Homo sapiens: one gene and its partners. The protein of the gene in region 1 purifies or fractionates together with the protein of each later gene. This does not show direct contact. Each region holds a gene or a part of one and is shown in the gene's direction. Other genes may lie near its edges. The genes, in order: THRB, SMC1A, PRMT2 and DNM3.

Region 1 (6,370 bases):
CATTTTTTTCACTTTCTTCTTGGTCTTGGAGCTCTCTTATTACTCAGTATAAAGTAGCAAAACTCCTCATAGCTTAATTTAGCAACACAATTATGTCAGTATATGAAATAGAACAGTATAATTTACTTATATATTCAATATTTAGAAAAAATAAAAACAAGCGCTAGATGTTCCTACTAGCCTCTTTTCCTTGAATAAAGACCAAAAAAAAAGGTGTTGACTCTGTAGTCCTATGGCATCATCAGCTCAGATTTAGAACTCTCTAGATCCTTCTGGGCCAACTGTCTTATATTTGAATATGTGGAGCTAGAGGCCTAGAAACAGGTTAAGGTCCAAAACGATTCATCTCATAGTTATATGGACACAAAATTCCAGAATCACTGATTTCAAGAAAATATGAAACTGTTGTCTTGGGTCTTTGTTTTTCATATAGGGTTTCTTTAGAAGAACCATTCAGAAAAATCTCCATCCATCCTATTCCTGTAAATATGAAGGAAAATGTGTCATAGACAAAGTCACGCGAAATCAGTGCCAGGAATGTCGCTTTAAGAAATGCATCTATGTTGGCATGGCAACAGATTGTAAGTAGATCTTCACTTGCTTCATATTCAAGGAATGTTGATTAGGAAACAGTTTGGTTCAAGGAGATCGACTGGGCAGAAAAGAAGGCAGGAACCCAAGAAGACAGAGAAGGGAATACCTTACTTTCGCATACACCCCTCACTCCCCACATCCAGGCTTGCCCTGAAAGGGAGGTGGGAGCCATTGCTGGGTGGGTTCCATCCTACCCTGTCATACCACCTCCTAACTGTCAAAGTATGGATGATGGAGGAGGAAATGCAGTTAAATTATCCCTATCACATTTGCAGGCCTAGTTGTTAGCAACACTCTGTTTGAGACAGAGATTACAAATGAGAGGTCTGGTCCATTTACCTTGATAAGGTATCATTCTATACACAGTGTTCACATGGGGTAGAGCCTCAGGGACTAGTCCTAATATTTTTTCAAGAGCAAAGACAGGAATTTATTTTATGGACATTTTTGGAGATGGGGCGCTGGCAGAAAACATCGTGTTCAGAAATTTCTGAAGAATGCAAAGTTGAGTGCTATTGCATGAGTCATCCTGCAGTTGGTTGTTTGTTATATTTTTAGCAATAAAGACATTCCGAGCTGAAGTCGTCCTACCCAGTTTTCAAAGTGCTACAGCATATGGTGGCGAGATTAGCCCTTGGGGTCTCTTCTCCCCACACTGTGCGAGGGATTTACACCAGTCACTTTAATTAATCTAATCATAAAAATAAGAATCATGTCATTCAGAATGTGTGGCCTCCCTTTTGCCAGGCATCAGTATTAATGATTCTACTGGCATAAATTTTTTGCACATCAGTGAGAGATTCCAACTATTAGTTAAAAATTAAAAAGAAAAAGAAAGATAAAAAATGAAGAAAGAAAAAAGAAAATACAGTGAGGATTTTTCCTGATGAAAGAAGTAATCATGACTCACATTTTATGTGAGAAATAGAGTTCTTTCACTGAGAAAAAAAAATCTGTGAAATGTTCTGGTTTGCCCATTAAAGAAGAAGGAATGGAGAATCTTTAAAAAGGAAGAGGGTTATGTTAGAGTGTTAGGCTGGAAATCCTGGGTTAATCCCCACCTCTGGCTGAGTATTTTCTTTATCTTTATCTCTTAAAGGCCTTTAGCCCTTGCCAACAATATGCCTGATAGGGATATGTGAATATGATTGACTTACAGCCAAATACTTAGATATGCCACTATGACAAACTTATTATTGATTATCTATTTCAGTGTTCTATTGAGAAGTTTAAGATACTAGTGTCTATGAGGTTTAAAAACTCAGTGTTAATCTAGACTGTATGGAAATAAATTTTGAGTGCCCTTTACTTGCTTGTGAGGGATTCTAAGAGCTCAGGCTTTCTAATCAGAAAAACTTCTGTTCGAGTCCCAGATCTGTCACTTACTAGCTGTGTGACCTTTGGAATTAAGCTGAGATTTTCCTTCTGTGAAATCATTGCCTACCTTGTAGAGTTGTTTTCAAGATTAAATTAGATAATGTTCATCAAATACAACAGTCCCTGGCACACCGGAAGCATTTGGGAAGGGGTTGAGGGTATTATTACCATTCCTCCTTTCCCTTTAGTAACTGAACCAAAATGACTTAACAGGGCTCATTCATATTTTCCTCATTTGTAAGCGCTCACATGACTTTGACAATCCAATCAAATCTAAATGGTCTGGAATTTAATATTCTCTTTAAATTAGAATATTTAAATGGGAGACTAGCTAGGCACCTTGGTTCTCCTTCTCTTGCTATGTCTGCTTTTTTTCTTTTCCTACCAGGTCACACCTTCATCAAGAAATGGCCCTAGGACAGTGATGTCGTAGAACTGGAGTCAGGAGTCCTGGGTCTTGCCTTGGCTCTGCCATTAACTTGCTCTGTGACTTTAGGCAAGTCACGACCTCTCTGGATCAATTTCTTCTTCTTTCTGTGAAAAGACAGAGTAGGACTAGATGACGTCTAAGTTCCCTTCCAGTTCTAAAATACTATGACTCTGCAATGTAAAACCTGAGCCTTTCCATTCCATTGATAGTTACCAAGTCTAGTGAAACGGTTTTGGTTTTGGAAATTGACCACAGAAATATAGGTTTCTTGTTACCTGCCCTTCTGATTTTCCTTTCACCCAAATGATAGAAGTCAGGACTGCATTTACTGAGCACTTATAATGCATTATCACATTGAATACTCTGTGAAGTGGGTATTATTGAGCCCATTTTGTATAGGAAGAAATGAAAGCTCAGAGAACCTAAGGAACTTGCCAGAGGTCACACAGCTAGAATGTAATAATATCAGAATTCAAACCCAAGTCTTTCTAGATTCCAAAGCCTGGACTCTTTAACCACCCTTGAGGGTGGACCAGGTAGAGAATAATGTACAGTGAGTACCTTGAGGCCCAGGTGAGGCCCAGCCACATTCCAATTAGCCCTTAAGGGAGCCATGAAGAGTTGGGGTCCTTTTTCCTCTTAAAAAAAGGGATCACGAGCCTCCCACTTACTGCTCCATAACGTTTCTTTTTTTAATTCCATAACGTTTCTTTAACCTGAAGTTCTCTTTACTAAGAGCCGTTTTAGGGGAAGCGGGGAGGACAGAAACCCAGAGAGTGAATTCGGATGACTGGCTGGACAGATTTCTCTGTGATCTTGTGGGTAGTATGGATTTTACCTCTCTGCTTCACTCTGTTTTAGAACCACCTTCTGTGGAGTTGGAGTGCGCAGTGTCTAGGTTCTCTGGGGACTTTGTTTTGAAAAGCTGGCCGGTCATGGGGAGTTTGGCTCTAGAGACCATGTTGGACAAGACTAGTCAATGGCAGTTTGCTGGTGAGGAGAGAAACTGTCCCAGTGTGACCCACCCCGAAGGACCCAGTAAGCCATCTGTGCATCAGTGGTCCCACTCCTGAGGCTCCAGGAAGTGCAGCTTGCTGTGTATCTTGGGAGCATCTGTGTGCCTTGTCTCATCTTTCTCCCCCTCCCAGTGGTGCTGGATGACAGCAAGAGGCTGGCCAAGAGGAAGCTGATAGAGGAGAACCGGGAGAAAAGACGGCGGGAAGAGCTGCAGAAGTCCATCGGGCACAAGCCAGAGCCCACAGACGAGGAATGGGAGCTCATCAAAACTGTCACCGAAGCCCATGTGGCGACCAACGCCCAAGGCAGCCACTGGAAGCAAAAACGGAAATTCCTGGTAAGGCTTCCTTGCACAGATCAGTTTCACTTATATGCCAGTGTTTTCTACCTCAATTTATTCAGTCCTCATCACCTTGGGATACTGGTGTTATTGCCTCATTTTACTGATAGGGAAACCGTAGCTCTGAGAGGCTGAGTAACTTGCAAAGCTAGGATTTGAGTCTAGGTCTGTGTGAGAATAAAGGCCACTCCTACCATCTACTTTGTGATTTGCTGAATTCTAAAACAGTTTCTTAGGCCACATTATATCAGTTTGCTTTTACTGTTAGAAAGACCACTCCCAGACCAACTAATTAGTAAAATGTTTTGTCTGCCATCTTTTACTTTCTATACCCATTTCTTTCCTTAGATGCCCAGTATATACATATTTAGTCCCTGAACTCAATCCCAAATATTCCCTTTATAATAGCCTCTAGGCCTCAAGTATATTTTTATGTCAACAGAAGTCAAAATTTTTTAGCTTAAATTAAATGAGCTTGACTCAAGAAGGGCAATGGGAATGAGGGAGTAGGGATAGGGTTGGTGGGCACGAGTGTGTAGAGAAAAAAGACCTTCCAGACCCTTGCAATATTGATGTTTAATATTCTTATAAAAATTACCAGTTGTGAAAATTCTTCCCATTCATTTTTTATTCAGACTTCATAGTGTTTTGAGGTAAGCTGGAATTACTATCCCCATTTTACAGACATGCAAACCAAGCCCAAGGCCTTAAGCCGCTTGCCCAGGATCGCACTGCTAAAAGCCAGGCACCAAAACCAACTCGGTCTTCTGGTTCCAAGTCCAGGCTCTCCACCCACCTCATTAGAAAGACTACGTGCCCTACTAGTGCTGGACCATCTCAGAGACTGACTCTGCTCTTAGTTTATGATATAAAACCCTTTTCAAGTACCTACCTGACAACAGATATTCTGTGGTTTCATTTGTATCCCTAGGACACATTAGAGTACTTCCCCATCTGAACAAGAAGATATAGTGGTATAATTATCCTTGTACCTCAACATTAACATTACAATGAGATAGTGGATCTTTTTCTTAAAACAACATAACAACAACCTTAAAGGAAGTTTTGGAAAGAAAAGGCTTATACATAATTCACCTGTACTGACACAATTACTTTCGTTGTAATGAAACAATAGTGCCAGCACTTTGTTGATGGCTTTCACTAACAGCAATGTCAGCAAATACCTAGATGGCCTTTACCATATGCCAGGTACTATTCTAAGTGCTTTTCATTCATTAACTTCCTATACCAATCCTGTAGGTAGATGTGGTTAATATCTCCATTTTACAGAAGAGAGAAGTAAGACACAGAAGTTGAGGAAACTTGCCTGAGCTCCCACAACTGGTAAACAGTGGTGATGGATGCAGCCAGCTCCGGGATTTATGTCTCTATCCACTACCCTATGCAATCTTGGCACCTGCACAAACCCAAAAAGCCTCTGAAAGATCCCAGCTCTTTGGAGGAGCAGCCTCTCAGTGCCTTGATCTTGCATCTTCACCCCACCCTGGTATATCTGCCAGAAAATTCAAAAGCACTAATTCTGGATTGATAGACAAATTCTAACACAGTACACTTGGGGCATAGCAAGACAGAGTCCTACCTAATTGCAAACTTAAATCCATCCTTTCCCCAAATGTGTCACCCATAAATGGACATTGTAGAAACCACTTCCAGGCCTGGCACTGTCTCCTGATTTCAAGTCGTGACCAAGCTGAATTCCAAGTAAGGTAGAAGATTTGAAGTTCATCCTGGACTTCTCCCGGGAATTTTATACTTTTATTGTCTTTACTCCCCATAGAGAAGGGATACTAGTCCAACTAAACTTGTTTAAGTAGTCATAAGGTGCTTCTTTCCAGACTTTAAAGATTTGTTCCTTTATTTAAGAAACATTTATTGAGTGGATACTATGTGCCAGAAAGTAAATAAGTCAGGCACATTCCTCTAGTGGGAGGCAGATAATAAGAGATAAACAAACAAAATAAATGCAGGTAGTGGTAAGTGCAATGAAGGCAATAAACAGTGTGATGGGATGAAGAGTTTGTGAACTGGAAGTGGGGAGAGACTTCATTTCTGTGAACATGGTGGTCAGAAGAAGCATCTCTGAGGAGATGACGTTGTGCTATGTCTGGAAGCAGAGAAACCACCTCTATAAAGCAAAATATAATCAAATATCTTCGTGCTGTGTGGTCACAATATCTAGTCATTAGAACCAGTCTTGAGGTCTGCACTGTTCACTTAAAGGCTCCTAACAGTTCACCAGCCTGACCATCTATGGAAAGAATCTATGGCACAGAATGATTTGCCATTAGGCTTCTGTCAGAACCATGAGATTACCCATGCACAAGAGAGTTTTATTCTCCTTGTAGGGCTGACATGAAATGTATCTTTTGTAGATCTTTAATCTGCTCAAGAAATTGTCCATCTTGATTCAAATGTAAATAACTGCTTCTCCGAGCCATTTTTCCCTAGAGGGTTATTGGGAAGGATCAGGACTCTTCCACTGTCCTGTCTGTCTCTACAATGAACTTCATTTCTGTCAGCCAATCCCCTTCTGTGCCTGGGATAACCCCTGCATCTCTTCACAGGAGAACAATGTTCCATTCAGCCTCCAC
Region 2 (6,370 bases), on another chromosome or scaffold:
GTTATTCAGTTGCAAGTTGTGGAAACAGCGGAGAATAGAATAAACCAACTCCATGCTCACAGGGAACTTATATTCCAGAGGGGAAAGAAGATAAGGAGAAAATAAGATGGTTTTAGGCTGTCATAAGTGCTATACAGGAAATGAGACAGGTGGATGTGATAAAGTGACTTAGGTGGTGTCTTTAGAAAGGGTGGTCAGGTAAAGCCTCTATTTTGTGTCTTCCCAACTCTAAACGATACACCGTGGATTCCTCTCACCTCAGATGTCCATTTGGAATCCTGCTGTATTCTTCCACCCCAGAGATGTTCTAGCTGAATGATATCCTAGCCTAAGAGGCTGCCCTTGCTGAAGTAGCACATACTGAGTACCTTTCCTGGAGACTGAGTGTCTCAACAGTGGCACTATTGACATTTCCAGCGAGATAATCCTTTGCTGTGGGATGTGCTCTGTGCATTGTAGGATGTTTAACAGCATCTCTGGCATCTACCTGCTAGATAACAGTAGCACCCCTGCTCCCCAGGCATGACAATCAAAACTGTCTCTAGACATTGCTAGATGTCACAGAGGGTGTGTGTGATTCCCCCAACCCCCCAACTTGTTTGAGAACCACTGGCCTGGAGGGCTAATGCTTGGTGTCCACCCAGTTTCCTCGGGTTTTAGTGTAGTGGCCCCTGTTGGAAGAGCTAGGATGTACCTCTTGGCATTCAGTCCCCTCAGCATTAGTAGATTTGTATTCCCAGCTGTTCTGAAAAGGGCTATGGCACTCCCCCACTTGCCCCCGTTCTTCAAGGCCCACCTCTACAAGCCATTCCTTTAGTCCCTTTGGTGAGTGAGTCTTCCTCTGTGGCATACCGTAGACACTTGGTACACGTTAATGTTTATTAAGTCCTATATTGATGGTGCATGTTTTTGTATCTTCATTGGCCTGTGAGTACCCTAAAGCAGACATTCCTTGAAACGTTTTACTGGTGTTCAGTCCATAATATATATTACAAAAATGTTTACCATATTGATTGTGATTAGAGAGGCTTGGGGTTGTGAGATGATGTTGTCCTCCCTGGAAATGATGGGAGAAGCCCAAAGGTTGGATATTGGTTCCTAAAAGGCTGACTCCTGGTCTGCATGATGTGCTAGTCCTGCTGTGATGAGGGAGACAGCTGAGTCCAGACTTAGGATAGGACTAATTAATTGAGTACCTACTCTGTGTGTCAAGTACTTTATTTATTGGGACCCTGTTTTTTCTTTTTCTTTTTCTTTTCTTTTTTTTTTTTTTTGAGACAGTCTTGCTCTGTTGTCCAGGCTGGAGTGCAGTGGCATGATGTTGGCTCACTGCAACCTCTGCCTCTTGGGTTCAAGTGATTCTCGTGCCTCAGCCTCCCAAGTAGCTGGGACTACAGGCGTGCGCCACCCCATCTGGCTAGTTCTTGTATTTTTAGTAGAGTTGGTGTTTCTCCCAGTTGGCCAGGCTGGTCTCAAACTCCTGGGCTCAAGTGATCTGCCTGCCTCAGCCTCCCAAAGTGCTGGGATTACAGGCATGAGCCACTGCACCCAGCCAAGGGACCCTTTACAATTAAATTCTCAAAATGACCCTAGGAGGAAAATGCCAATAGCTTCGTTTTATACATGAGGAGACTAAGGCACAGAGGTGTGATAACTTGTCCGTGGTTCTCAGAACCCATGCCTGTGCTCCTGCCACTCCAATAGAGAAGTATGTGCCGCACATATTTTTAGACCCGTGAATTGTGGTTTTTTTCATCTTTTTCCAGGTGAGGGAATGGAAGGTCAGCTAAGTGGTAGTGAAAGTAAGATTAGAACCTGGTCTGTTGGTTCTAAGCCCAAGTTTGCAAGCTTTTTTAGATGGAGTCTCACTCTGACGCCCACACTGGAGTGCAGTGGCATGACCTCGGCTCACTGCAACTTCTGCCTGCTGGGTTCAAGTGATTCTTTTCTTTTTTTTCTTTTTTTTTTTTTTGAGATGAAGTCTTTCTCTGTCGCCCAGGCTGGAGTGCAGTGGCGTGATCTCAGCTCACTGCAACCTCTGCCTCCCGGGTTCAAGCTATTCTCCTGCCTCAGCCTCCTGAGGAGCTGGGATTACAGGCGTGCACCACTATGCCCGGCCAGTTTTTGTATTTTTAGTAGAGACGGGGTTTCACCACGTTGTTCAGGCTGGTCTCAAACTCCTGACCCCGTGATCTGCCCACCTGGGCCTCCCAAAGTGCTGCGATTACAGGTGTGAGCCACCGCGCCTGGCCTATTTTTTTTTTTTTTGGAGTCAGGGTCTTGCTCTGTCACCAAGGCTGGCATACAGTGGCACAATCATGGCTCACTGCAGCCTCAACTTCTCGGGCTCAAGCAACCCTCCCATCTCAGCCTTCCCAGTAGTCAGGACAACTGGAGTGTGCCACCATGCCGAGCCAATTTTTGTATTTTTTGTAGAGATGGGATTTTGCCATGTTGTCCAGGCTGGTCTCAAACTCCCGAGGTCAAGTGATCCACCCACGTCTGCTTCCCAGAGTGCTGGGATTACAGGCGTGAGATGCCGTGTCCAACCTAATCATAGTCTTATACCGTCTCTATGGAAGGACTTGGGCTGCTGTTTTTATGGCTGAGTAGAAAGGTGTTGGAAATCAGATCTTCAGTTCAAAGTCATATATAAGTTCTTTAGGGACAGTCTTGAGATAGAAATTATAGAGACTAAACTGTTCCTCCTTATCCACCAGCCCGACTAAACTTTTTTTTTTTTTTTTTTTTTTTTGAGACAGAGTCTCTCTCTGTCGCCCAGGTTGGAGTGCAGTGGCGCGATCTCAGCTCACTGTAACCTCCACCTCCTGGGTTTAAGCGATTCTCGTGCCTCAGCCTCCCGAGTAGCTGGGATTATAGGCACACAACCGTGCCTGGCTAATTTTTGTATTTTTAGTAGGGACGGGGTTTCACCATGTTGGCCAGGCTGGTCTCAAACTCCTGACCTCAGGTGATCCGCCTGCCTCGGCCTTTCAAAGTGCTGGGATTACAGTCATGAGCCACTGCACCCGGCCTAAACTTTTAAAACAATATCTATTTTTTGGCCAGGAACGGTGGCTCATGCCTGTAACCCCAGCACTTTGGGAGTCCAAGGTGGAGGATCTCTGGAGCTCAGGAGTTTGAGACCAGCCTAGGCAACATAGGGAGACCCTGCTTCTGCAAAAATCCAAAAACTAGCTGGGCATGGTGGCTTATGCCCATGCTTCCCGCTACTTGGGAGGCTGAGACAGGAGGATCACTTGAGCCAAGGAGGTCAAGGCTGCAGAGAGCTGTGATACTGCTACTGCACTCCAGCCTGGGTGACAGAGTCAGACCCTGTCTCAATAAATAAATGAATAAGGTCTGGGCGTGGTAGCTTATGCCTGTAATCCCAGCACTTTAGGAGACCGAGGTGGGTGGATCACTTGAGGTCAGGAATTCGAGACCAGCCTGGCTAACATGATGAAACCCCATCTCTACTAAAAATACAAAAATTAACTAGGTGTGGTGGCACACGCTTGTCGTCCCAGCTATTCAGGAGACTGAGGCAGGAGAATCACTTGAACTTGGTAGGTGCAATCTAGCGTGGGCGATAGAGCGAGACTCCATCTCAAAAAATAAATAAAATAAGTAAATGAAACCTTTTTTGTTTTCGGATTCTAAAATGAACAAAGTAAAAGCTGTAACTCCACTACTGAAAAGATAGCCACTGTTAATGTTGAAAACCTTATTTATTTGAATAGCTGGTACATGTACATGGTATACAATTTTAAAAATCCTTAAGGATATACAGTAGTAAAAAGAAGACTCCCTTGACCCTAGCTGCTTAGTTTCCTTTTCAGAGGCAATCACTGCTGCACTGTTTACGTTTTCATATATTTGTTTCCTATGCCTTCTCTTCTCCCAAGTTTTATTATGAAAATTTGCAAGCATATATGTGCATTACTTAGTCATTTGGAAGTAAATTACAGACTCAATTACATTTCACCCCTAAGTGCTTCAGCATTCACCTCTTAAAATCATCATTCTCCTGTACTACCACTATTCAGTTATCACAACTAAGAAAATTTCCTCATGTCATCAATTATCCAGTTTATATTTAAGCTTCCTTAACTTGCTCCCCAAATGTCTTTTTGTTATTTTGGAACCAGAGTCCAGTCAAAGTTTGTGCACTGTTTACCTATGTCTCAGAAATCTCTCATGTTTTGGAATGGTTCGCTCACTTTTTTTTTTTTTTTTTTTTTGAGATGGAGTTTTGCTCTTGTTGCCCAGGCTGGAGTGCAATGGCGTGATCTTGGCTCACCGCAACCTTTGCCTCCCAGGTTCAAGCGAGTCTCCTGCCTCAGCCTCCTGAGTAGCTGGGATTACAGGCATGTGCCACCATGCCCAGCTAATTTTGTATTTTTAGTAGAGACGAGGTTTCTCCATGTTAGTCAGGCTGGTCTGGAACTCCCCAACCTCAGGTGATCCGCCCGCCTCGGCCACCCAAAGTGCTGGGATAACAGGCGTGAGCCACCGTGCCCGGCTCACCCTTTCTTTTTAGACACTGACTTTTTGAAAAGACCAGGCCATTTGTCTTTGAGAACATCCCACATTCTGTGTTTGTGTTAAGATTTCCTCATGAAAACCTTACTATGTTCCTCTATATTGTATTGCTGTATTTCCTAGGAACTGGAAGATAAGTCTGAAGGCTTGTTTAGATTCAGATTAGGCTGGATATGGTGGCTCATGCCTGTAATCCCAGCACTTTGGGAGGCCACGGCGGGAGGATCACTTGAGGCCAGGAGTTCAAGACTAGCCTGGGCAACACAGCGAGACCTTGTCTTTATTATAACAAAAAATTAAAAAAAGGAAAAAAATAGATTCAGGTTAAATATTTTTGGTAAGATACATCATAAATGATGCTGTGTGTTTCATATTGTTTCACAACAGGAATATGCACTTTTTTTAGATGGTGGTAAAATACACATAAAATTTCCTAAATTAACCATTTTTAAGTGTGCAGTTCAGTAGTGTTAAATATATTCACGTTTTTGTGCAAACGATCTCTAGAACTTTTTCATCTTGCAAAAATGAAAATCTATGCCCATTAAAAAACAACTCCCAGGCCAGGCGTGGTGGCTCATGCCTGTAATCCCAGCACTTTGGGAGGCCGAGGTGGGCGAATCACAAGGTCAGAAGATCGAGACCATCCTGGCCAACATGGTGAAACCCTGTCTCTACTAAAAATACAGAAAGTTAGCTGGGTGTGGTGATGTGTGCCTGTAATCCCAGCTATTCGGGAGGCTGAGGTGGGAGAATCCCTTGAACCAGGGAGTCGGAGGTTGTGGTGAGCTGAGATCACGCCACTGCACTCCAGCCTGGCAACAGAGCAAGACTCCATCTCAAAAGAAAAAAAAACCTCCCATTTTCCCCTCCTCCCAGCCTATTTTTAAATTTTACTTTACATTATTATTATTATTATTATTTTATTTTATTTTATTTTTTTTTTTTGAGATGGAGTCTTACTCTGTTGCCCAGGCTGGAGTGCAGTGGCACGATCTTGGCTCACTGCAGCCTCCACCTCCCAGGTTCAAGCGATTCTCCTGCCTCAGCCTTCCAAGTAGCTGGGATTACAGGCGCCCGCCACCACGCCCAGCTAAGTTTTGTATTTTTTAGTAGAGACAGGGTTTCACCATATTGGTCAGGCTGGTCTTGAACTCCTGACCTCAGGTGATCCACCTGCCTCAGCCTCCCAAAGTGCTGGGATTACAGGCGTGAGCCACCATGCCCGGCCCACTTTATATTATTTTAACATCGTTGAGTTTTGTGTCTTGTTTGTTTCACCTATTGTGGGCTTTTGTCCATGTCATTAAAGGTTGTAAAACTATCCATTCTGTGAATATACCATTTCTTTAGATTGGGTTCTAGCTTCTTTTTTTAAACTATTCTTTCCTCTTTTTTTTTTTTTTTCACTATTTTTTTAAAGAGAGTCTTGTTCTGTCACCCAGGCTGGAGTGCAGTGGTGTCATCATAGCTCATGCAGCTTTGAACTCTTGAGCTCAAGCGATCCTCCCTCCTCAGCCTTCTGAGTAGCTGAGACTACAGGCGCATGCCACTATGCCCAGCTAATTTTTTTTTTTTTTTTTTGAGATGGAGTCTCGCTCTGTCGCCCAGGCTAGAGTGCAGTGGCACGATCTCGGCTCACTGCAACCTCCGCCTCCCAGGTTCAAGGAATTCTCCTGCCTCAGCCTCCCGAGTAGCTCATGCCCAGCTAATTTTTAAAGTTTTTGTAGAGACTGGGTTTTGCCTTGTTGTCCAAGCTGGTTTCAAACTCCTGGCCTCAAGCGATCTTCCTGCCTCGGCATCCCAAAGTGCTGGGATTACAGGT
Region 3 (5,846 bases), on another chromosome or scaffold:
TGGAGCTCTCCAACTCCTTAACTGGAAGAGCTGAGCGCCGAAAAGATTCCGCAGAATCTGGGGTAGAAAATTGGGCGCAAGAAGCTCAGATGCTTGAAACGTTTCTGACTGAAGCCTCTGAACTCACGATGCGGGTTTTGGGGGTGGTTTCCCCAGGCTGGGGGGCTTTTCTACGGTTCCTGACGCATTCAGCGTCTGCGCGGGGCGCGTGGAGGGGGCCGCCCCAACCCGGGCCCTGCGGTGCCACGCGGTGCCCACGCGTGCCTTGTCATCTGCTTGACCCAGACCCTGAGGGGCGAGCTGCGCTTCGACATCAGGAAGGCGGGGACCCTGCACGGCTTCACGGCCTGGTTTAGCGTCCACTTCCAGAGCCTGCAGGAGGGGCAGCCGCCGCAGGTGCTCAGCACCGGGCCCTTCCACCCGTGAGTGTGCGGGGCGCGGGCACGGGGTGCGGGGTGGGGGGCAGGGGAGTAGGCGGGGTGCGGGGATGGGGCGCGCAGGAGGGGGTGGGACGCGGCGTGGCGGTCGTGGGGGGGTGGGGCACGTGGGGGCGCGGGCAGTGGGGTGGGGGCGGCGCGCATGGGGGCACGGGTGGTGTAGACACCGCAGCCTGTGTGCCCCCTTCCGGGTCTCGCCACCACTCTGGGCCCAGCCTGGGCGTCCCTCCGACAACAGCCCCAACGGGAGGAGCTCCCTGTCTTCCACCCCGCGAGGAGCACCACAGCTCTTCATGGTCTGACCCAAAGCGCCTCCACGGGGCGTCGGGGTTCACCTGACGTTTTTGGAGGTGCCTGTTTTTTGGGACACATTTCCCCGCCAGCACCCTGGGCATGTGTGGCAGTGGAGCTGCCTTCAGGGCCCTGCAGGCCTTCCCTTTGGGTGGGGTTGGCTACCCCGCTCTGGCACCTGCCCCGCTGACTTCCCAGCGTGGTGGCCCCGCGAGGGGACCCCGGCTCCAGGGAGGTCGCAGAGGTGCGGGGTTGATGGCCTGGCCTGGCATGTGGTCCCCATCACAAGAGTCCTGTGGTGGCCCCTCCAGTGCCATCACCGGGTGGAGGTGGGCAGCTTGGAGGCCAGTTATACCCATCCCCGAGTCTGGGGGCGTGGAGGGGGCAGTGACCTGGGGCACAGGCTGGGGTGAGGGGTGTGACCAGAGTCAGGGAAAAACTGGAGACCTGAGGAGCCCCCCACTTCACTGCTGGCCCCACCGTGGACAGTGGGAGTTTGAGGGAAGACAGAGCCTGAGGAACTTAGAGATGTTTCCAACGCAACCCAGTGCAGAATCATAGCGTTTTACTATTTCCCCCCAAATGTGACAGTTGTCCTCACCTTGTAACCTTCACAGAAGCGACTCCTTGGACCTGATTCTGTCTGTGTACACCACAGTTTAACAGCAGGAGCTAGATCACCAGCCTCTGCAGCTTAGGCAAGGGTGCAGGAAGGGGTTGCACAGCCGTCCTCCTGGCGGGCCGGGGAGTCGACACCACACGGGACCTTTAGTGCAGCTGTGTGTCCCCTGAGCTCCCGCATCCTCTGGGCCACCCAGGGTGAGCCGTCCACACCTCCTGGAATCTGAGTGGTCTCAGGAGCAAGCTTGTGTTTGGCATTGGCAGGATCTGTCTCACTAGCGTAACTTTGATCCCAGTGTATCCCATAGAGTCCCTTTAGATCACAGGGCTGGGGGTGTATATGTTCCCTGAGTTAGCCTGAAAAGCCAAGCTTTGTGTCCCCAGGCCCTCAGGGTGGACTGCCGGCTGTGTGGGTGCTGTTGGGGGCGAGAGCCAGTGCGAGCCTGAGTCAGCGCCCCGAGGGCCATGTGGAGACTGCCCTAGCTCAGCCTCCAGGTCACACGCACCCCTGTCTTGCAGCACCACACACTGGAAGCAGACGCTGTTCATGATGGACGACCCAGTCCCTGTCCATACAGGAGACGTGGTCACGGGTTCAGTTGTGTTGCAGAGAAACCCAGTGTGGAGAAGGCACATGTCTGTGGCTCTGAGCTGGGCTGTCACTTCCAGACAAGACCCCACATCTCAAAAAGTAAGATACGTAGTTGTAAGATTCTGTCCTGTGGGTGCCGGTCCTCAGGGAGACAGGCCTGGGTGGTGGTAGTGATGGCAGATGCTGGCCCACACTGGGGTCCACGCCTTTTGTGCAGGAGTGATTTAATCCTTACACAGAAAGCGCCTGTTGTCATTGGCTTCATTTCCCATCTGACAGCACGGGAAGTGGAGGGCTCTGGAAGGGAAGTCAGGGAAGTCATTCCCTCAGGTGACACGGTAAGTGAGGGAGAGCAGAGACCCACATCAGCCTGAGGCCCCTTGTGCCATGTCCAGAGGGTCCCCCAGATGGACAGAAGCCTGAGCTGTGCCTTGGCGCTCCCTTTACACAGGCCTCTGTGGCTTCCCAGGCAGCAGTTAGTCTAGGCGTGTCGTCTGTGATGCGTGTTCTGACTGGCAGCCTTCGGATCCGTGTGTGAATTCATGTGTAGCTCGCCCAGCTCACTTGGGCTTCCTGTCTCAGAGGCTGCTGAAAATGGAATGTTCTTCTTTGGGCTCAGGATTAATGTGGCAAAGAAAATAAAAATAAATGGTTTTCCTTCATTTTTTATATTTGTTTTGTGCTTTGCTTTGTGATAAGTTTTTGTTAAAAGTTTGTCATTTAAAAAAATTCTGCACCTGAATACTGTTCTCTTGTCCAATATTAAACCATTAGGAAATGTAGTATGTTAATCAAATGATTTATCATCTGATTGACCTGTTGTCATTTATCTTTTTCAGGTTGGAGAAAAAGTCTTCCCCATCTGGAGATGACAGTTGATGCTTTATTTGGAAAGCAGTGTGCATATCTTGAGGGGTGATGAACACAAGCAAACCAAGTTGCACCTGGCTTCTGCACACTCCTGCGAAAGTCGGTGAACATTCACTCCACATTGACCCCTCCCTAGCCTGGCAGGTGACGTCAGGGTCCTTCACAGACAAACACGCTTGGGCTCGGCAGGAGCTGCCGTGGCCACCCCCGCTGCCCAGTGTCTGCCCTCTAGAAGTAGGCTGTGTTTCCAGGTGTTCACCCGTGGTGCCCACAGTGCCGACCCGTGGCTGGGTCGGAGCTCCATGTTCCTAAGCTAGGTCTAGGTCTACACTCCTAGGACGCACGCATATCAGCCCGTGTACCCTGTGACAGTGACTGTCCCCACCTCCTATGTTAGTGGTGCCCTTACTGCCGTCGCTCATCCACTCGTGTGGGACGTAGGATTGCACAGGGCTGTGCCAGTGGCGTGTAGGGAACACTGCCCTGGCTCAGCGTGCGAGCTAAGGTGGTGATGTATGCGATGGGACTCTGCATGGGATAGTACAGTTGTGTAGACGTCTTCCAAATAAATTATGTGTTGGTCCATCGCACATGCTCAATAAATATTTTTAAATGAGTGAATGTCATTGTGTATCCTGTTTTATGCATATATGTTATTTTTTGTAATTACAGGATCATACTATATGCATTGCTTTATAAGTTTTTCTCAATATTGTGAAAAAACTTCCACATCAGTAGATACATGTCCATAATTTTTTTTTGTATTGTTTTGATTTTTATTAAATTTTATTGAAATATAGGCTGGGTGCAGTGGCTTACCTCTGTAATCCCAACACTTTGAGAGGCTGAGGTGGGATGATTCCTTGAGCTCAGGAGTTCAAGACCACCCTGGGCAACACAGCGAGATACTATCTCTACAAAAAAAATAGAAAAATTAGCTGGGCATGGTGGCGTGTGCCTGTAGTCCCAGCTACTCGGGAGGCTGAGGCGGGGGGATCACTTGAGCCCAGGAGGTTGAGGCTGCAGTGATCTAGGATTGCACTGCTGCACTCCAGCGTGGGTGACAGAGCAAGACCCTGTCTCAAAAACCCCAAAAAACAAAACTGAAATATCAAATATATATTGAAAACAGTGCTAGTCATGGGTACATAGATGATGGCATTTTATAAAGTGGACGCACATGTAACCAGCATCCAGGCCAGGACACACTACAGATTCCCCGATTCCCCTTCCACTCAGTGCCCACCCTCTCAAGGGTGATGTCCTGACTTGTAACTGTCGATTACTCTTGCCTGAATGGAGTTGTACACGTGTTCTTTTGTGTCTGCCTTCTTTAATTAAACATTGTTTGTGAGACTCATCTATGAATTTTAGACAGTGTGGTTGTGGTTGACTTTTTCATTGTGGCATAGTATTCAACTGCATGAATAGACCACAGTTTATGATCTTGTTTCACATGGTGTCCTTTTGGGTTGTTGCCATGGTTTAGCTATGATGATTACTGAGACTGTGGACATTTCTGTGTATGTGTTTTGGTGCATGTATGTACACATTTCTGTTGGGTGTACACTGTATACCAGGTTTTCAAGTCAAGGAATCTAATATCCCTGCCAGCTGTGCATGAGAGTTGGCATCCTCGTCAACACCCAGTATTGTGTTTTGCATTTTACCTGCTCTGGTGGGCGTGTGGATTTGGTATACATTTCATTGATGACTAATCCAGTTTTGTAGATTTGCCGCTCATTTTGGATATCCTGTTTTTGAGGTGCTTGTTTAAGTCTTTGGCCCATTTTACTATTAGGGTTTTTTTTTTTCTATTTCTAATTGAGATTCCAGGTGTTCCTGATATAATTTGGCTGAGTCCTGTAACACATATATTTTTGTGAATAAATCTTTTCCCTTTCTGTGGCTTTTTTTTTTTTTTTTTTTTTTTTTTTTTTTTAATCAAGCATCAAGCTGTGAAGAAGCTGTGTCAGTATTTTCTTTTTTTTTTTTTTCTTCGAGACGGCGTCTTACTCTGTTGCCCAGGCTGGACTGCAGTGGCGTGATCTCAGCTCATTGCAACCTCTGCCTCCCGGGTTCAAGCGATTCTCCTACCTCAGCCTTCCAAGTAGCTGGGATTACAGGCATGCACCACCACACCTGGCTAATTTTTGTATTTTTGTAGAGACGGGGTTTCACCATGTTGGCCAGGCTGGTCTCAAACTCCTGACCTCAGGTGATCTGCCCACCTTGGCCTCCCAAAGTACTGGGATTACAGGCGTGAGCCACAGTGCCCAGCCTGTGTCAGGATTTTCTGTCATGGACATGGAGGCTGGTGGTCTGGGTGCAGTTTCATACATGGTTATTAGAAAAGGCATCTCATCCAAATGTGGTGGCTCGTGCTTGTAATCCCAGTGCTTCAGGAGGCCAAGGGAGGAGGATTACTTGAGCCTAAGAGTTTGAGACCAGCCTGGGCAACACAACAAGACCTTGCCTCTACAAAAAACTTAAAAACTAGCTGGGTATGATGGTGCACACCTGTAGTCCCAGCTACTTGGGAGGCGGAGGCGGGCAGATCGCCTGAGGTCAGGAGTTCGAGACCAGCCTGGCCAACATGATGAAACCCCGTCTCTACTAAAAATACAAAAATTAGCCGAGTGTGGTGGTGCATGCCTGTAATCCCAGCTACTCAGGAGGCTGAGGCAGGAGAATCACTTGAACCCGGGAGGCGGAGGTTGCCATGAGCCGAGATCACGTCACTGCACTCCAGCCTGGGTGACAGAGCACAAAAGACAGGCATGACTTTGTACTTAACTGCTCAGCTTTGTAATCACTGGGGGCCCAGATGCTCACTTGGATTCTAACTTTGTTGGCATCTGGGCCTAAAAGCCGTGATGCAGGTGAGCAATGATGCAGAGGGCTCTGTGCGCCTGGCGGGCTCTGTTTGCCTGCTGGGCTCTGTGCGCCTGCTGGGCTCTGTGCGCCCGGGAAGGTGCGGCCACCCTCACGCGGAAGGCGGCCAGCGGATCCCGGTGCGCGCAGCTCCCAGCGCT
Region 4 (6,370 bases), on another chromosome or scaffold:
ACTGGAATACTAATACATGTTTCTTCAGTGTGTGATAAGAATTGTCATATAACTTATGAAGCCACTTGGTATATACCATACTTCATCGATTCTCACATTCACTTCTTTTTATTTAATATTTCTGAAATGAAGATGCATCTTATACTCAATGGCATCTTGACATCCTGTCAAAGTTTGATTGATGGTATTTTTTTTTTGTCTGAATAGTCAGCACATATGATAGTAGTGTTTCTTAAAATCACTGGTGTCTTAGAGTTGATGAGATACAGTAGCTGGCGTTCCCACTCTCAGTGTTGTGCACCATATTCATCCTCTCCATTTTCATCCTGCAACAAAATGCCCCTCCCCCTGAGACTCCCACATAGTGTTCATACTTTAGTTTGTTTTTATATATTAGCTAACTATGCAACCTCATGTCAGTCCCCATCACTGTTAACTAACTTCTATTGTAAACTTCTGGAAAACAGAGTGCATCTCTTTCACTTGTTTATAAATCAACCTGCATAGTTATATAAGATTCTGTATTTAATAAATATTCACTTACTGGTGCTAATTTCACTTTTGAGACGACACTGAAACTTGGCATCTCAATAATTTTCCAGTGATTTTGGTAAAAGCTAGGGAAAGGACTGCGAATGCCAAGGAATGGAAAACGTGTGATTACATAGGTTTCTTCACATCACTGTTTTCTGTTGAAAATACTGCTTCTTACCTCATAGTACCTTCCCTCTTCTATAAGCCAAACAGCTCCAGACAATATTGTGAAATGCTCACAAAGCCAGCAGGCCCTGTTCTGGTGATGGCTGGGTTTGGCCTTCTTCTACTCATCTCTATCATCCTTCAGTGTGGACAGCCAAAAGACAGAGGGAAACTGTTACTGTCACCAGTACTGGGGATAGAGACAAAACAAAAGTAAACAGACGCTTGGTGCTTCACTTTTCCCAGGGTGGACTTTGGTGGACTTTGGTGGACTTTGTCCAGACTCTGACTGCCACAGCCATGTTTCTACCTCCACTCAGTCACTCATTTATTCCCATTTTTATTTCTCTGTGGTGATCTGACAGGTTAAAGATTTCATAAATTCCGAGCTCCTAGCACAGTTGTATTCTTCAGAGGACCAAAATACCCTGATGGAGGAATCTGCTGAGCAGGCTCAGCGCCGGGATGAGATGCTTCGAATGTATCAAGCACTGAAAGAAGCCCTTGGGATAATTGGGGACATCAGCACAGCCACCGTGTCCACTCCGGCACCCCCTCCAGTGGATGACTCCTGGATACAGCACTCTCGCAGGTAAGAAGATGGCCCCGGCCGGGTGCGGTGGCTCGCTCCTGTAATCCCAGCACTTTGAGAGGCCGAGGCGGGCGGATCACGAGGTCAGGAGATCGAGACCATCCTGGCGAACATAGTGAAACCCTGTCTCTACTAAAAACATAAAAAAAATTAGCCGGGCGTGGTGGCGGGTGCCTGTAGTCCCAGCTACTCGGGAGGCTGAGGCAGGAGAATGGTGTGAACCCGGGAGGCAGAGCTTGCAGTGAGCCGAGATCGTGCACTGCACTCCAGCCTGGGTGACAGAGCAAGACTCCGTCTCAAAAAAAAAAAAGAAGATGGACCCACCCACAACCCCTGAGCCCTGCCACGCTTGTCCAATATCATTTTCTGAGAGTGCTTTCCTAAACCAAGATGGACCTACAGAAAAAGGGGAAAAGATATTTACATTCAGGAGTAAGGATCAGATTATACTAACTCCCTTAAAAATGCAGCACAGTGCATCCTCACAATGGAATGTTATATAGTCACTAAAAAGAACAAGACAGTTCTATTAAGTCCTAAAATGAAAAGATAATCCAGTTAACGGGAAGCTTTAAAAAAAAGGGAGGTTGTATGCCAGGCGCGGTGGCTCACGCCTGTATTCCCAGCACTTTGGGAGGCCGAGGCAAGCGGATCACCTAAGGTCAGGAGTTTGAGACCAGGCTGGCCAACATAGTGAAACCCTGTCCCTACTAAAAATACAAAAATTAGCTGGGGGTGGTGGCGCACACCTGTGATCCCAGCTACTCGGGAGGCTGAGGCAGGAGAATCGCTTGAATTCAGGAGTCAGAGGTTGCAGTGAGCCGAGATCACGCCACTGCACTCCAGCCTGGGTGACAGAGCGAGACTCCGCCTCAAAGAAAAAAAAAAGGAGGTTGTAGAAGACTGTGTTCTATGGTATACAGAAAAGCAATTTATATATAGAGAGAGAAAATATATACTTATACAAATGTAGAATACAGTTAAAAAGGATGCACAAGAAACTTCTATAGTTGTTTCAACAGAGTGAAGGGGTAGGGAGAGGAAAACTTACTTTTCTCCATTTACCCTTTTATCCCTTTGACTTTCATGACATGAATTGGACTTATTCAGTCAAAAAATAATTTTTAAAAAGCAGGAAGTTACAAAACATTTTTAGAGATTAATTCAGACAGAAAGGAGGAGTGAGCAAACTATGATTTCTCTTTTTCCTCAGGTCACCTCCTCCAAGCCCCACAACCCAAAGGAGGCCAACACTAAGTGCTCCCCTCGCAAGGCCCACATCCGGCCGAGGACCAGCTCCTGCCATTCCCTCTCCTGGCCCCCACTCTGGGGCTCCTCCAGTCCCATTCCGTCCAGGCCCATTACCTCCTTTCCCCAGCAGCAGTGACTCCTTCGGAGCCCCTCCACAAGTTCCATCTAGGCCTACGAGGGCCCCGCCCAGTGTCCCAAGGTAAGGCATGGAGCAGAAATTGGGGGGGTAGTGCGCCTTGGTTCTCTTCTCATAGAATGACAGACAAAATTTATTTGAAAGAGAAAATTGCAAAGATCTTATCGTACGTGTTTGCAGTTTTCACAATGAACAGAGACTATAGGAAAATTGCCAACCCTGTTATGCCATTTAAAAATCACTTGTGATCATTGAAATTTCTCATTTATCAATTGGCACAGACTAAATAGGACTAAAGAACACTCCGTCCCAATGAATGACATTTTGGCAGCTATTGGGAGAATTTGAGGGCTTTGAAACAAAAGAGCTATGGAGGATTGTAGCAAGCTGTGTGTTCTATAGGTCATGAGAGTTCCATGGACTAAAGTCTTGCCTTCTCCATTATCAAAAGAATTCTTGAAAACCACTGACTTAGAGAATTTTATCCATCTGCCTTCTGAACTGTGATCCTTATACTCAATTTTACCAATTTTCATATAGGCTGAATAAATCTGGCTGATTGATCTGCAATTGTTTTTTTAAAAACTACACATAGAAATTTTAATATAGGCATGATTGTTGTATACAGTCACTAATCATATATAAGATAGATCATTGTACATCTGAATAATACGTGTTGACAATTATAAGTGGATTTTCAGGCTTAATTGTGAAACAATATAGCTAATAAATAATGGACCTAGAAACACACATAGTTGGAGCTGTAGTCTCACCTTCATATACTTACAGTCAAAATATACACAATGAATAGAATCAGAGATTTTTAAGGTATAAAGTACTAAGGTTTTTTTCCCCCTCAAAATCAGAAATATAAAGAGGAAAGAAAATTAGCCCATATATAAAGTTAATTTTTAAAAAATTCAATTCAGAGAATTAAAATATTTATATACTCCATGAAGGAATATCTGACTGTATATGAACCATAAAAACAGATGTGACTTCTACCCATCCCTGAAGCCTGAGCCACCTTGCCAACTGATTATGGCACTTACGTTTTATTTTAATCTTCAAGTTGTTAAGCGTAATGAAGAGAAGAGAAGAAGGGGGATCTTAAGCTAGTACACAGAGGGTGGTACAGCAAGAATAGGCAGGAGATTTGCAGTCAGAAGACCTGGGTTACTGAAGGTCTTGGGCAACTCATTTAACTCTGAGACGGGAGTTCTTTATCTATGAAACAGGGAGAACTCAATAAGGTTGTTCCCCAGATCATATGACATGAGGTATTTGAAAGAGTTTGATACACTGTAAAGACTACAGTTGTTACCACTGTTATCATTTTGGTCCTAAGCAAAGAGGATATATACACACTCTCAATCCAATTTTTTTTCTCTAAATTCAATAGACTTGGCTTATAAATTATTTGGAATGGTGCTAAATTTCTAGTAATAGCAGTACTAGCAATAGCCAACATTTATTGTGCCCTCAATATTACTAGGCATTGCCCTAAGAACTTTGTATATACATTTTTGTTTAAAGCTCACAACAAATAGGTTGTTATCCACATTTTACAGATGAGGCAGTGAGGTTAAACAGCTTGCCCAAGGCTGCTCAGCCAGTCCCTAGTGGAGCTGGACTTTAATCCCATGCAGTCTGCTTCCAAAGCCATTTCCTGACCATGACCCCAGGGTTTTTCAGCCTCATCAGTACTGACGTTTTTGTTGTGGAGGGCTGTCCTGTGTATTGTAAGATGTTTAGCAGCATCCCTCCCCTCTACCCTCTAGATTTCAGTTGCAGTCCCCAGTTGTGACCACTAAAAATATCTGTAGACACTCCCAATGTCCCTTAGGGGAGTAAAATTCCTCTCCACGTGAGAACCACTGCACTGTAGTATTCAAAAGAATTCCCTTCCATGTAAAACCATGAATTTCCGCATTGAGCCTTGCTACAAGCAAGATCCAATTTATTATTTTAGAAAACCTCAAATTGACTAGGAAAGTGTCTGCCATTGTACCAGGAAGGTATTGAGGCCATTGGAAGAGGAAGAGTTGAGAGTGGGAAGGCTGGAGTGCCATGCAGGAGCTACTTTTGTCTGTCTAGCTGTGAGAAAAAACCAGAGCAAACTGGTGGTGCCTGTCCTGGGGAATGAACATGCATGTTCTGCCTGCTTGCTTGACTGCTTTACCTGTGGGTTTCAGATGAGCTAGCTTGCCAGTACCCTTCAGAAAAATCAACTTTTGAATGCTAAGCTGACTTGTTAAGCAGGGTGGAGTTGCCGTTAGTATTTTCCAGCTCGCACGAACAAGGCAGCCGGATGAGAATGAGTAGCCCGAGCTGGATGGCCGGCACATGGGCAGCAGGGCTTAATGAGACTACATTAGGGAATTTATAGGATGACAGTTGCCTTATTTGAAATTTCTAGAATACTCTCAAGTTAGAACCAGACTTTACTTGATCTGGCCATGCAAAGAGTCCCAAATTTAAAACAGAAATGAAAGTACAGGGTAAAAGAGGAAAGTTTGTTGTTTTGTGCTGAGCCTTCAAGTTTCTGTGCTGGTTCAGCGCTTTGGGAGGGAAATCCCGGGGAAGGGGGCTGGGGGAGGGGTGGTCACCTGAGAGAGGGCAAGAAAGACTCTGTCAGGATCCCCATGCCTGTTAAATCCAGCTTTAGATGGAGAGTTCTGACCACATAAAGTCTGTTTTTAATAAAAGCCAGAGCAGGAATCCTACCAAATACAAGCCAGAAATGGGGTTTAAGATTTCAAAAAAAGAAAGGAAGAGAGAACGAGAGAAAGAAAGAAATTGAGAGAAGCGCTTGTTGAAACTTCACCTTATTCTGTTTGTTTAATATATTCTATTTCCCCTCTGTGCTTTGCCTCCATTTTCTCTATCAAAAACTTAGAAAGTTGAAATGCCATTATCCATCATCTCTGGGAAAACAACCCTTTGTTTTCAGAGAAGGAAGTTTGATTTTTTTTTTCAAGTTTTTTACTTTCTTAAGGGTCCTTTCTCCTCTTGTATCTGAAACCAGAAACCTATAACATGACAAGACAGCACAAAAGGTGTCCCGCCAGCTCCCTGTTGGGCTTTAATATTACAAAGGCAATAACTGAACTTTTAGAGACAAGAGATTCTGCCATTCAGCATGGGCTTGTGCATAGTTTTCTTCTGGATAATTCACGACTTCATTAGCAAGTTATGATCTTGACTTTTAAGAGCATATATACTTTTATGTTAACGCCATTCAAAGGTAATCAAAGCACACTTGCAATTGTACAGAAACCATGAGTGTTCTGCTTTTAAAAAATATATATTATTGTATCTTTCCATTCCAATATAAAAGGAGAGGAAGGAGAGAGGTGGTGGAGTCATTTTTGGCCCAGCTTTTCTCAGCTGCTCAAGCTGTTCTGGTTTATGTGCATGGAGCCTTTCAGTTAGGGAGCTGGAAATATTGCAAACTACATGCCTGTTTTAATTAATTCCACTTGAACTAGAGAAGCATCTCTATCCCAAAGAGATTCACTAGTATGTATGCTTCTGTCATTGGTAACTTGAGTATACACAAATCAGTGATTTGTGGAACATTTTCTATTGCCAGAATATCTGGATTGTCACCTCCCCTCTCACCTCCACTCAACTTCTCTGAAGGGGCTAAATGCTGTTTGAAAATCCAATCCAGTGTGTATTTATTTACT

The links.
Region 2: the proteins of THRB (region 1) and SMC1A purify together in Homo sapiens (affinity purification with mass spectrometry, with the first as the bait; one study listed by BioGRID). This does not show direct contact.
Region 3: the proteins of THRB (region 1) and PRMT2 purify together in Homo sapiens (pull-down; one study listed by IntAct). This does not show direct contact.
Region 4: the proteins of THRB (region 1) and DNM3 purify together in Homo sapiens (affinity purification with mass spectrometry; one large-scale study listed by BioGRID and IntAct). This does not show direct contact.

Annotation. Positions count from the first base shown.
Region 1 is NC_000003.12:24,140,886-24,147,255, reverse strand, and holds part of THRB (thyroid hormone receptor beta), read left to right. Parts: intron 1-433; coding exon 434-581; intron 582-3,549; coding exon 3,550-3,755; intron 3,756-6,370.
Region 2 is NC_000023.11:53,415,426-53,421,795, reverse strand, and holds part of SMC1A (structural maintenance of chromosomes protein 1A), read left to right. Parts: intron 1-6,370. UniProt on the Homo sapiens protein: Involved in chromosome cohesion during cell cycle and in DNA repair. Central component of cohesin complex. The cohesin complex is required for the cohesion of sister chromatids after DNA replication.
Region 3 is NC_000021.9:46,661,515-46,667,360, forward strand, and holds the end of PRMT2 (protein arginine N-methyltransferase 2), read left to right. Parts: intron 1-285; coding exon 286-422; intron 423-1,868; coding exon 1,869-2,040; intron 2,041-2,780; coding exon 2,781-2,813; coding exon of another isoform or gene 2,814-2,860; 3' UTR 2,861-3,610; downstream 3,611-5,846. UniProt on the Homo sapiens protein: Arginine methyltransferase that methylates the guanidino nitrogens of arginyl residues in proteins such as STAT3, FBL, histone H4. Acts as a coactivator (with NCOA2) of the androgen receptor (AR)-mediated transactivation.
Region 4 is NC_000001.11:172,386,069-172,392,438, forward strand, and holds part of DNM3 (dynamin-3), read left to right. Parts: intron 1-1,064; coding exon 1,065-1,291; intron 1,292-2,504; coding exon 2,505-2,741; intron 2,742-6,370. UniProt on the Homo sapiens protein: Microtubule-associated force-producing protein involved in producing microtubule bundles and able to bind and hydrolyze GTP. Most probably involved in vesicular trafficking processes, in particular endocytosis.